2 separate regions of the Homo sapiens genome follow, and region 2 is linked to region 1. The links come from fine-mapping of genetic effects on gene expression. A gene starts in region 1. The other region holds a variant in brackets. All regions are shown on one strand. Distances are from middle to middle.

Region 1 (5,377 bases):
ATCCCTCACTCTGAGTTGAGATCTGCCTCCTGGTACCACAGGACAGCCACCACTCCGTCCCAGGCCATGAAAACCGGCACTGCCCTGGGAGTCAGGATGCCAGGCTCTGTCTCAGCTACTGCAGAGTTCGTCTTCCTGGAGCTCAGTACCCAGCCCCTGAGTTCCTAAGGGGAGAGCTGGACCCACTAGCCCCTGGGTCCCTGGAATCCACACAGGGCTGGGCACAGAAGCCACTGACCCAGCCTACGCCATCTCCGTAGACCAAATGACTGCGTCTTGCTCAGACCCTGCCCTCCCATGGAGCTATTAATGACAGGGCCAGCCCTGGGACAGGGGAAGCAGCAATATATCACCCCATGCCGGGGCATTGGCCCTAACTGGACAAGCCAACAGTCACAGAGGGAGAGCCAGAGCCTGGGCTGCCGGATCCCCACCCCAGCCTGAAATAGAAACCTATTTCAGAGACAAATGGGGAAATGGTCCCAAGGCAGGAGGGGGCAGGGTGGGCTGTTGCACCCAGCTTCCTGAGAGTCTCGACAGGCCCCGGGTCCTCTGCTGTAATGGGCACCTGTTGCCAGGTTCTGCCGACTCACTCTAACACTAAGGAACCAGGAAAGCTAGGTTCAGAGCTCTGGGGCCTGGACACTGACAAATTATAGTCCCAGCTCCCACATTGGACAGGATCCTTTAATTTCTCTGAGCCTTAGCTTCCTCTGCTGCAAAATAGGAATAACAATAATTCTGACTGCTTTCTTTTTCTTTTTCTTTTCTTTCTTTCTTTCTTTTTTTTTTTTTTTGAGACAGTCTCGCTCTTGTCACCCAGGCTGGAGTGCAGTGGTATGATCTCAGCTCACTGCAACCTCTGCCTCCTGGGTTCAAATGATTCTCCTGCCTCAGCCTCCTGATGCTTTCATTTTTGTGTAAAACACTTGACACATTGTAGTTGCTCAGTCAATGACAGACCTTGCTATTATTGCTTAACTTTCTCTTTCAGCTCAATTTTGACGGAATGATTTATTCACGTTATTTCATTTATTTATTCATTCAGCCAAAGAGCCAACACACACCTACTAGGTAAGCCACAACAGTTAATAAAGTTTTTGGAGTTAGGTAAGAATTGAAACCCTAGCACTGCCGCTAGTTGGTTGGATAACTCTGGGAGAGCCATTTCCCTTCAACAAGCCTCCATTTCTTCTCCTGTAAAATGGGAACAGTAAATACCATCTCTGGAGGGCATTGGGATGTTATAAAGAGTCAGTGGCACTTGAGGCCAGCAGTTTGAGACCAGCCTGGGCAACATAGCAAAACCCCATCTCTACAAAATATTTTTAAAAATTAGTTGAACATTGTGATACATGCCTGTAGTCCCAGCTACTTTTAGGTTGAGGCAGGAGGATTGCTTAAGCCCAGGAGTTCAAGGTTACAGTAAGCAATGACAGTGCCACTGTACTCCAACCTGGGTGACAGAGCAAGACTCTATCTTAAAAAAAATAAAAATCCCAAAATAAAAAGCGTCAGTGGGACAGTGGTGTGAAAACAGCCAGTGCATAGCCACAGATGGAAAAACAGGTGGTGGATGGGCTGCACAGAGAAGCCAGGCAAGCTTCTGGCAGAACAGGCCATGCTGGGAGCTCCCGGCAGTCAGGTCTCCAGAGACAGCCACAGGATAAGGCAAGGGCAGGAGAGAAGAGTCGGCAGGCTCAGAAACGATTTCCAGGTTTCTGGACCATGGCCCCCTCCCTTTCTGATAAACTGACAAACAGTGAGGAAATGCAAAAAAAGATTGTAAGAATTTTAGAAGAGTCCCAGCCACACAGGGAGTCGAGGGGAGTGTAGAGTTCCACCCACCCAGCCAGTCACACACACACACATACACTGGAAGCTGGGCATTCTCACTCTCACGTACACACCCAGGGGCTTGGCACACACACAGATGCACCTTCTGGGGCACAACACTTTATAGTTTGCAAAGGGCCTTCTCATTTTTCATCTCATTGATACTGAGGGGTGGAGAGTTTCCCTGAATATGACCCATTCTAGAGCTGGCAAGAGATGAGAGTCCCAAATATCTTCAAGAGGCCGGGGCTGAACGCATGGGCTGGGCTGCCTGTTTTCTCTGTGTCGGTGTCAGCAGAGCTGAATGGCAATAGAAACTCTGGAAAAGTTTTAACCCAGCTCTCCCAGATAGGCCCTTTCACCCTTAACAAGTCACACCTGGACTCAGGGACTTTTTTTTTTTTTTTTTCCAAACCACTCTCACGGGGCCAGCTCCAGGCTGTCTTAAGATTTAGCTGGAATGGCAGAGGTGAGAGGCTTCCCAAGGGCCTCCTCTGTGGACAATTATTTGATCACTAATCCTTCCTACTCATTCCCTCAACCAAAGTTCCTGGGGAGCTCTGAGGGCAGGGCCCAGCCTCCTCCGTGAGGACCCCTCTCCAGATACTACACTTAGCAGTGTTCACATACGCAGGGAGAGACCACGGTTGCCCCCATTTTAGAGAGTAAGAAATTGAGGCCCAGAGAGGAAAAGTGCCCTTGCCAGCCATTTGCACTCCAACCAAGACCTTTGTGGCTCCGAATCCTGACTGAGCTATTCCACTTCTCCAGCAAGGCACGGCGCAGCACCAATGTGTCCATCTCCTCCCCGCCCCCACTGACCCCGTCCTGCGGTGCCTCGTCCCTCCATGCTGTGCAGTCTGCAGGCTCCAGGCATAGCCAGGCGGAGGAAGGAGGAGGACCCCAGTGCCTGCCCTACTGCCACTCTTGCCTGTGATGAGCCTCGGTGGCTGCAAGTGGACTGCAGTTACTCAGGAAGCTCCTAGGGGAGCTGAGGGGCGCAAGCCCTTCCAGGCATGGACCCAGAAAACTCACCCAAGAGTTAGCAAGTGCCTCGCTTGCAGTCCGTGAAGTGCTGGAGCAAATTCCCACTCGTGGAGCAGCCCCTGCTGCCAGTCAGTTCTGTGCCTGAAACTGTCGCGTGCAATGTTCTGGCAGAAGTCTGGAGAGGCAGCAGATGAGGAAACCGAGAGACCTGGGGAGAGGAAGTAACTTGCCACAGCACAGAGCTGGCAAGCAGCAGGGCCAGGACTCGAATCCCGAGAACCCTGAAGCTCCAGTCCTTTACACCAATGCTGACTCATCCTCTACCCAGCTGCCCGCAAGTCACTTCATTCACCCTCTGTTTGCTCACTCAAACAAGCAGCATCACCAATTTAGCCCAAGGGACTGTTGGGAGGATGGAGTGAGATAACATTTCAGGACAAGGGCCTGGCACAGGGAAGGCACGCATTGGGTGGCTGTTTTTTATCCTCCTCCCCATTATCACCCCAGCCCTCTCCTGGCTTCTCTGGAGTCTGGAGATGGCCCTGCTTCTGCTCATTGCTGCCGCAGGAAACCATTAACCTGGTTTTCTCAGCAGTGCCTGGAAGGTCCGTTAAGAGAGGCTGAGACCCCGAGATTAATGGCTCTGTTATCTGTGGCTCCAACCCTATGGATCCAGACAACTCCCACCCAGGGATGAGGATGGCACTGAGGGAGGAGAGAGACCCTCTCATACTGTTTTATACTCGGAAAAGGAAAGAGAAGCGAAACTAAAGGCAGGTAGCCCGGCGCCTAAAAACCAGACCTGAAACCAAGGAACCAGACCCGAAACCAAGGAACCAGACCCGAAACCAGGCCTGGGCCTGCCTGACCTAAGCCTGGTAGTTAAAATTCGACCCCTGACCTAGCAGCTGTTGTTATCTATAGATTCCAGAGATTGTATGGAAGGACATTGTGAAACCTCCCGTTCTGTTCTGTTTCACTCTGACCACCGGTGCTCGCAGTCCCTATCATGTACCCCCTGGCTTGTTCAGTTGATCACGACCCTCTCACGTGGACCCCCTTAGAGCTGTGAGCCCTTAAAAGGGACAGAAGTTGAGCACCTGACGAGCTCAGATTTTAAGATGCTAGCCTGCCGATGCTCCCAGCTGATTAAAGCCACTCCCTTCACTATCTCAGTGTCTGAAGGGTTTTGTCCGCGGCTCGTCCTGCTACAGCACCGAAGATGGAGGGTGATGCCGGGGGGGAAAGGCTGACCCCAGGCAATCCTCCCCTCCCCAGCGCCAATCCATCCTTGAGCTTGGGCTTGATGAGGAGAAGGCAGCCCGGGCGGCTCTACCTGGGCCCATGGTGGGCCCTCCCCGTCTGTAAGATGACTCTCCTGCTTCCTCCTCCTCCTCTTCTTTCTTACAGGTACTTATTGGCCACCTACTCTGTTCGGGTAATGTTCAACGCACTTGAGGTCAAAAAACAAAGTCCTGCCCTTGAGACACCTGTAGTCTAGCAGGGGAGATTAGTTTCTTTTGGTTAATGAGTAAATATATAGCAGGCCAGATAGTGATAAGAGCAGCGATATAGAAACATAAAGGAGGGTAAGGGGCGGAGAGCTAGGGGGCTGCAGCCTCGGACAGGTGGACAGGCCCCATCTAGATTTGCCAGATCACCCTCTCCCAGCCACCTAGCCTGGAGGAGACCCTCCCCCAGGCCCCAAGCCCCCACTCTGTGCCAGGCTCTGCCTCAGTGGATCTCAGCAGCAGGCTAGTGCGAAGACTGGGACTCCCTGGGCACAGGCAGCAACTCAGGGCCACCAACGCTTTGGCAGGGAGCATCCCGAGCTTGTGCCCCACTCCCAGCCCTGGGGAAGCTCTCTGCTTCCTCTGTGGTCCAGAGAGGGAGCACATCCCTCAACCAATCCCCAATCCCAATATCCCAGTAGGCGAGAGGGCGCTGGACCCAGAGAGGGTCGGGACTTGCCTGGGTCACACAGCAAGGCAGAGCTCCCTCTCCTGCCCTCTCTTGGCATGTCCACAAAGGTAGGTTCAGGGGTGAGCCTCCCAGCACAGTGCTGGCCTGTGAGGGGCTGGCTGTGCCCCCCGTCAGCTCCTGGTAAAGGAGTGTGAGGTGTTTCTGTGGCAGGCCCACCTGGTAGTGCCAGCCTGCCCCACCCTCCAGGCTCTGACAGCCAAATTCTCCTACCCCAAGCCCCAGGAAGCTGAAGGCATTTTCCTTGCAACCCCAGCTCATGAGAGTTTTGGTCAACCCTGCCTCAGCTTGCTGTGTGACCTCAGGCAGTCCAGGCAGTCCCATCCCTCTCTGGCCTCAGCTCCCTCATCTGCCAAATAGAGGAAGTGAAGGCACTTACATATCAGGAGTGTCATGAAGAATGAGCAAGACACTGACAAGAAGGCAGTTTGCAAATTTTTAGACACTATCCAGATGACAGGCAAGCAGAAAACTCATCTGAAAACCAGCCCCTCATCCTGTGGGGCCCTGAGGTAGCCCCAGAGCAGGTCCTTGATCCTTGATGGGAAATAAGCACAAATTCCACAGAACCAGT
Region 2 (5,377 bases), 25 kb after region 1:
GCATTCGTTAGCCCGGTCAGGTTGACACATATAATTAACCATCACAGATCTCCCTACATTATCACCACTTTCCTGGATTTTTAACCAGCATTCTTCTTGTTCCTCAGGCTTTAAACAGGGAGTTCAGCACAGACCTCAAATTGTAACAGAAAACAGAAAGCAACATCTCCTGGTTCATAGACCCTGGAGAAAAATATTTGAGATACATGAATGCCACTGACTCAAAGAAAACAGAAATGGCATTGACGTGAAAGCTGCAGGTGCTGAAAGGTTTTAGTTTGCCTTGAGCAAGTTAAATGAAAGTAAGAGAAGCAAAGACTGGATACTGTACTATTAATACCCACCACAGTGAAAACCACTACTTCATTGGCACAGGTGCTGGTACAAGAAACTTAGAGGACCAAGAGGCTGTCATAAGATGATGGTTGATGACATCAATACTACAAAAGGTCGGCCTAAGTATGTGCCCTGTGTGGGAGTGGTTCCAGCAAATCCAGTCTCTCTCTCTCTCTCACCTGAGGAGACATGGTGACCTCATGCAATGATGGATTGTAGATGGCCACAAAGCAACCACAGGCTATGAACATCAACACGTGGTATTTATAGAGAGGACAATAAAGAGAAAGAAAAGCTGCGAGGCCGGGTGCGATGGCTCACGCCTGTAATCCCAGCACTTTGGGAGACTGAGGTGGGAGGATCACTTGAGTCCGGAAGATCAAGACTGCCTGGGCAACATAGCAAGACCTCATGTCTACAAAAATTTAAAAAATTAGCCAGGTGTGGTTTTACGTGGTATCCTATCGTCATACTTACCTGGGAGGCTGAGGTGGGAGGATCACTTGAGCCAGGAGTTCAAGGTTGCAGTGAGCTATGATTGTGCCACTGCACTCCAGCTTGGGTGACAGAACAAGAAGACCCTGTCTTTAAAGAAAGTGTTTAAAATAAAAAGAAAAACAGCTGAGTCATGCACCTGACATAGAAGATGTTTTTCTTTGATACAAAAGTCATGAGCATTCTGGGGGTGCAAACAGGACAATAGAGATCAGGGAAGGACTGGGTGAAAGAAAACAGAGCTTGGGGGTGGGAAGGTATGAATTTCAGCCAATTAGAGCAATCAAGGCCAGGTTCCCCACCATGGAGACAACTTGTCAACCTAGCAAGAGTAAATGCAGGCCCAGAGGAGTCATTTCCAGCAGGCATCGCCTTTGGGAATATATACCCCAAGAAAACACAGCTCCTTTGTTGCCTGTAACAGATCTGCTGATTCTCATGTGTGCCTGCCCCACAGAGGGCTGGAGAAAAATGTTGTCCAGTCTCTCTTCTGTTTCAGATTTTCTCCCTGTTTCCTCTGAGGTGGCTTCTGAGTATTTAGGGAGTTGGGGCCTCATATCTCTGTAGCAGGGAGAAGAGATGGAACCTTGGCTTTGACCTCCATTCTGATGTCTACTCCTCCTCCACACTTATTTTTTTTTTTAATTTGCCATTAAAGAAACTGAGTCGTGTATCCTATAAAGGTTCTCAAATTCTGGATTTGGTTAATTTCATCACCTATTGCTATCTCAACTTCCTCAGTCACCTGTATTTTCTGAAAACTGGTAGTTAGATCTAGAGGTTTGATCAAATTCAGGTTCACCTATGAATTCTTCATAGGAGGTGGTGTGTACTTCTTTGTACCCCATAAAGCAGGACATAATGTCTAGTTCTCTCTCTTTTTTGTGATGTTAATATTGGCCATTGGGTTCTGGTGTTATCAGACTAGCAACCATTGGGATGATTACTGCTCAGACTTGCCTGTAGAAATAGAAAGCAAAGCATATAGGTATATTTTTTAATGTTAAAGTAAGCACATTAAAAAAGTAATCAGAAATACTGAGATTAATTTAAATAATATATTTTATTTAATCTGTTATATCAAAAATATTATATAAAAACCAAGATATTTTACAATCTTTCTTTTCTGTATTAAGTCTTCAAAAATCTAGTGTGTATTTTACACTTATACCACATATCAATTCCGATAAGCCACATTTCAAATGTTCAGTAGGCACTTGTGGGTAGTGGCTGCCACATTGGACACCCCAGGCCTACAGGCATTAATTGATTAGGGCATGCAAAATGATGATATTTAATTCTGTGATACCTTCTTCATTTATTGGCTGGAGTTCAGTAAAGAAGAATTTTCCTCGGTGTCTATTTAGTTACTCTGAAATACAGTTTGTATAGGAAAGACAGATTCTTTTCCTTTTAACCTGCCTTTCAGAATAATACATTGATAAGCTACCAACCTACAGAACAGACCTACACGTTTGCTTGTTTGTTTGCTCTTAGTATCATTATAAACTCATAGATTGAAACACAAGTTTCAGATTTGTATGTTTCAATCCATCGTAGGCATTATTCTTTTTGATACTTAAAATACCCCATCTTTGTGCAGCACAGTCCTCAAGTTGGTTTTTATGTCCTTTAAACACAACGTTAGTAGTGCTGACAACTTGCTTTTTGTATGACAAAATATTCTGAACCCATCTTATGCATTTCCTGCCACGAACCCAGA[A/G]TCAGCCATTTCTCCAAGAAGCCCTTGTTCCTTTTAATAGGAAATACATTTAGAACCTTTGAAGCGGGTACTAGAGGTGCTCAGCATCACAGGGCTAGTTATTGTTCCCAGGCCTTTTTAGAAGTTAGAAATAGAGAATACTTTTTAAAGAGAAAAAAGCATCATGAGTTTATACAGATGTTTCCAAATCCAAGACTATACTGATAGTAGTTTTTTCTTCTTTGATTTTATATTCGTATCTCTTTTCTCTTATGTTGAAAATGTTGGTTTCCAGTGACATTAACATAATTAGATTTTCATTATATCCTACTACATGTAATAGTTTCAAACTAACACCATCAATAGTATTAAAGTTGACCCTTGAACAGTGCAGGGGTTAGGGATGTCAACCCCTCACGCAGTTGAAAATCCACATATAACTTTTGACTCCCCCAAAACTTAACTACCAATATTCTACTGTTGACCAAAGCCTTACCGAAAATATAAATAGTTGATTAACACATATTTTGTATGTTGCATATATCATATACTGTATTCTTATAATAAATTAAGCTAGAGAAAAGAAAATGTTATTAAGAAAACATAAGGAAGAGAAAATATATTTACTGCTCATTAAGTGGAGGTGGATCATCATAAAGTTCTTCATCCCTCTCATCTTCATATTGAGTAGGCTGAGGAAAAGGTGGAAGGTGGGGATTGGTCTTGCTATCTCCGGAGTGGCAGAGGCAGAAGAAAATCTGCATATATGTGGACCCATGCAGTTCAAGCCCATGATGTTCAGGGGTAACCGTACTTGTAATATGATTACAAAGACTGCTTCAGATTTCTTTAGAGTTAGTTCTCTTTGTCCTTAGAATATGTCCTTCTTAGGAATGTACAGTGAGGCAGTTATTAATTCCAGGAAAAACAAAAAGTTATGCAAGAAAGAAAATATAAACATAGAATGCCCTAAGATGTCACTGTGAGCAACATTTTTGACATCATAAAAATGGAAGCACTGAATATTTAATCAAAAATTGCAATGGGAGAATGAGAGAAGGAAGAGAACTAAAGCCTCATTTCACAAAAGGAAACCAGTATATAATGTCTAAAATGGAAGAAACCGATTTTTAAAAATGGTCTGAGTTTGATACTGACATGAAAGTTTTCTTTTTCTCCAGTCGAATTTAAATTGCCACTCATTTCCATCACACGGAATTTACACTCACTCCTCTTCTCTGCTGCCTCCCAGCCACCCTTTTTGACTCCAGCTCAGGAAATGGAGACATCTTTTTTTTTTTTTTTACTGAAGTGGGATTGTTATTTAAATGTTCTTTGGGTAATCCTGTTCCCTGGACAACCCTGACTTGGACAGTGTCCCCTAGGGCAGACCCTCCAATTCAGGTTGGATCTCTTGCCAGGCAGATGTGTGAGTTCTCTGTGGCAGTAGCTCAGGCAGGCTGAGGGAGGGGTGGCGATTAGCGCGCTCCTTCAGCTCCTTCACCGAGGAGGGGATTTGAAGTGAATCTTGGAGGAGGAGACACATTTCAGGTGAGCAAGGAAGTCAGAAGGATTCTGTAGACGCAGGGACAGCATAGGAAAGGCAAGGTGCCTGGAAGGGATTCTGCAATACATCCAGTATTCCACAATACACGTGTTACTCCTCAGGGACACTGTTCAGTCACTCTGGTTTTTCTGGCCGCCCAAGATGTAGGGCCATTTCCTAATCTATTTAATAATAGGCATATCATTTGGCGTCTGCTCAGCTCAGCCCACGGCCTTGGAACAAATGGACCCAATTAAAAGGCCATCATAGGGGAATTCAAGGGAAGAGGAAAAAGCCATTGATCAAATCAATGCTCAGTTGCCCTGGGGCTGGTTTGTGACCAGCTATGCCAGAGTCCTTCCCCCTATCCTCTCCCAGATGCTGTCCTAGACCTGAGGACCTTCCCGCCACCCTGGTCCCATCCTCCTCTCCTCCACCCCCACCCACTGACTAGCTGTGTGGCCTCACACTACATCTTCTCTAGATCTCAGGGTCACTGTCTACAAAACATTGTAGGCATCCTCTGCACCCCCTCTTCTTTTATCACCTCCTTCCATCCAATCCATAAAGGATCCCATTCACTCTTCCTTCAGAATACATCTGGCATTGGTCCACTTCTCCCCACCTCCATTGCTACCACCTGGTCCCAGTCCTCAGCCTGAGCTCTCACCTGGATTTCTGCAACAGCTCCTCCCTGTAGTCATTACTTCTGACCTTGCCCCACTGTGGTCTATTCTCAGCACAGCAGACAGACCAATCCTTCTAAAATGTAAGTCAGATTCTGTCTCCTCCTCAGACCTTGCATGGCTTCCCTTCTCATTCAATGTCCTACCAGATCTCCCCCGACCTCTGGCCTCCCCTCCTCCCCTCCAGGCCCACTCCACCCCAGCTGCAGGCCCTAGGGCTTTGCACTTACTGGTCCCTCTTTCTGGGAGCTCTTTTCCATTTGGCTAACTCCCACACCTCCTTCAAGTATTTGCCCAAATGCCTCCTTTTCACCCAACCACCCTATTTAAAATTGCAACCTTCATGTCCTCACAATCCCTCTTCCTGTTGTTTTTTGCCTCCTACAGAGCTTGTCACCTTTTAACACACCATATAATTTACATTCTATTATGTTCACTGCTTATTATCTCTCTCCCCCTACTAGAATGTGAGCTCAAGGGCATCGTCTTTGTCTTTTTTTTTTTTTTTTTTTTTTTTTAAAGAGACAGAGTCTCGCTGTGTCTCCCAGGCTGGAGTGCAGTGGCATGATCTCGGCTCAGTGCAACCTCTGCCTCCTGAGTTTGAGCAATTCT

Which allele goes with the higher level. Alleles are on the strand shown, and positions count from the first base shown. SD is a standard deviation of normalised expression in the study named.
In carriers of allele G in region 2, the expression in subcutaneous fat of the gene that starts at base 3,000 in region 1 tends to be higher than with A alone (small effect, 0.26 SD a copy in GTEx).

Evidence for each region. PIP is the estimated chance that this variant, and not a neighbour inherited with it, causes the effect.
Region 2: its variant is fine-mapped to the expression of P2RY6 in subcutaneous fat (GTEx, PIP above 0.99).

Annotation. Positions count from the first base shown.
Region 1 is chr11:73,269,961-73,275,337 of GRCh38, reverse strand. It overlaps P2RY6 (pyrimidinergic receptor P2Y6), which reads right to left and starts at 3,000. Exons shown (of 3, transcript NM_001277204.2): 1 at 2,872-3,000. RefSeq lists enhancers at 3,762-4,554, 4,929-4,978, 4,555-5,348.
Region 2 is chr11:73,244,575-73,249,951 of GRCh38, reverse strand. It overlaps the pseudogene OR8R1P. Among named protein-coding and RNA genes, the nearest start is that of P2RY6, 25 kb to the left of the region's middle. RefSeq lists enhancers at 385-444, 515-564, 1-1,159. The variant A/G (reference allele first, on the strand shown) is at 2,555.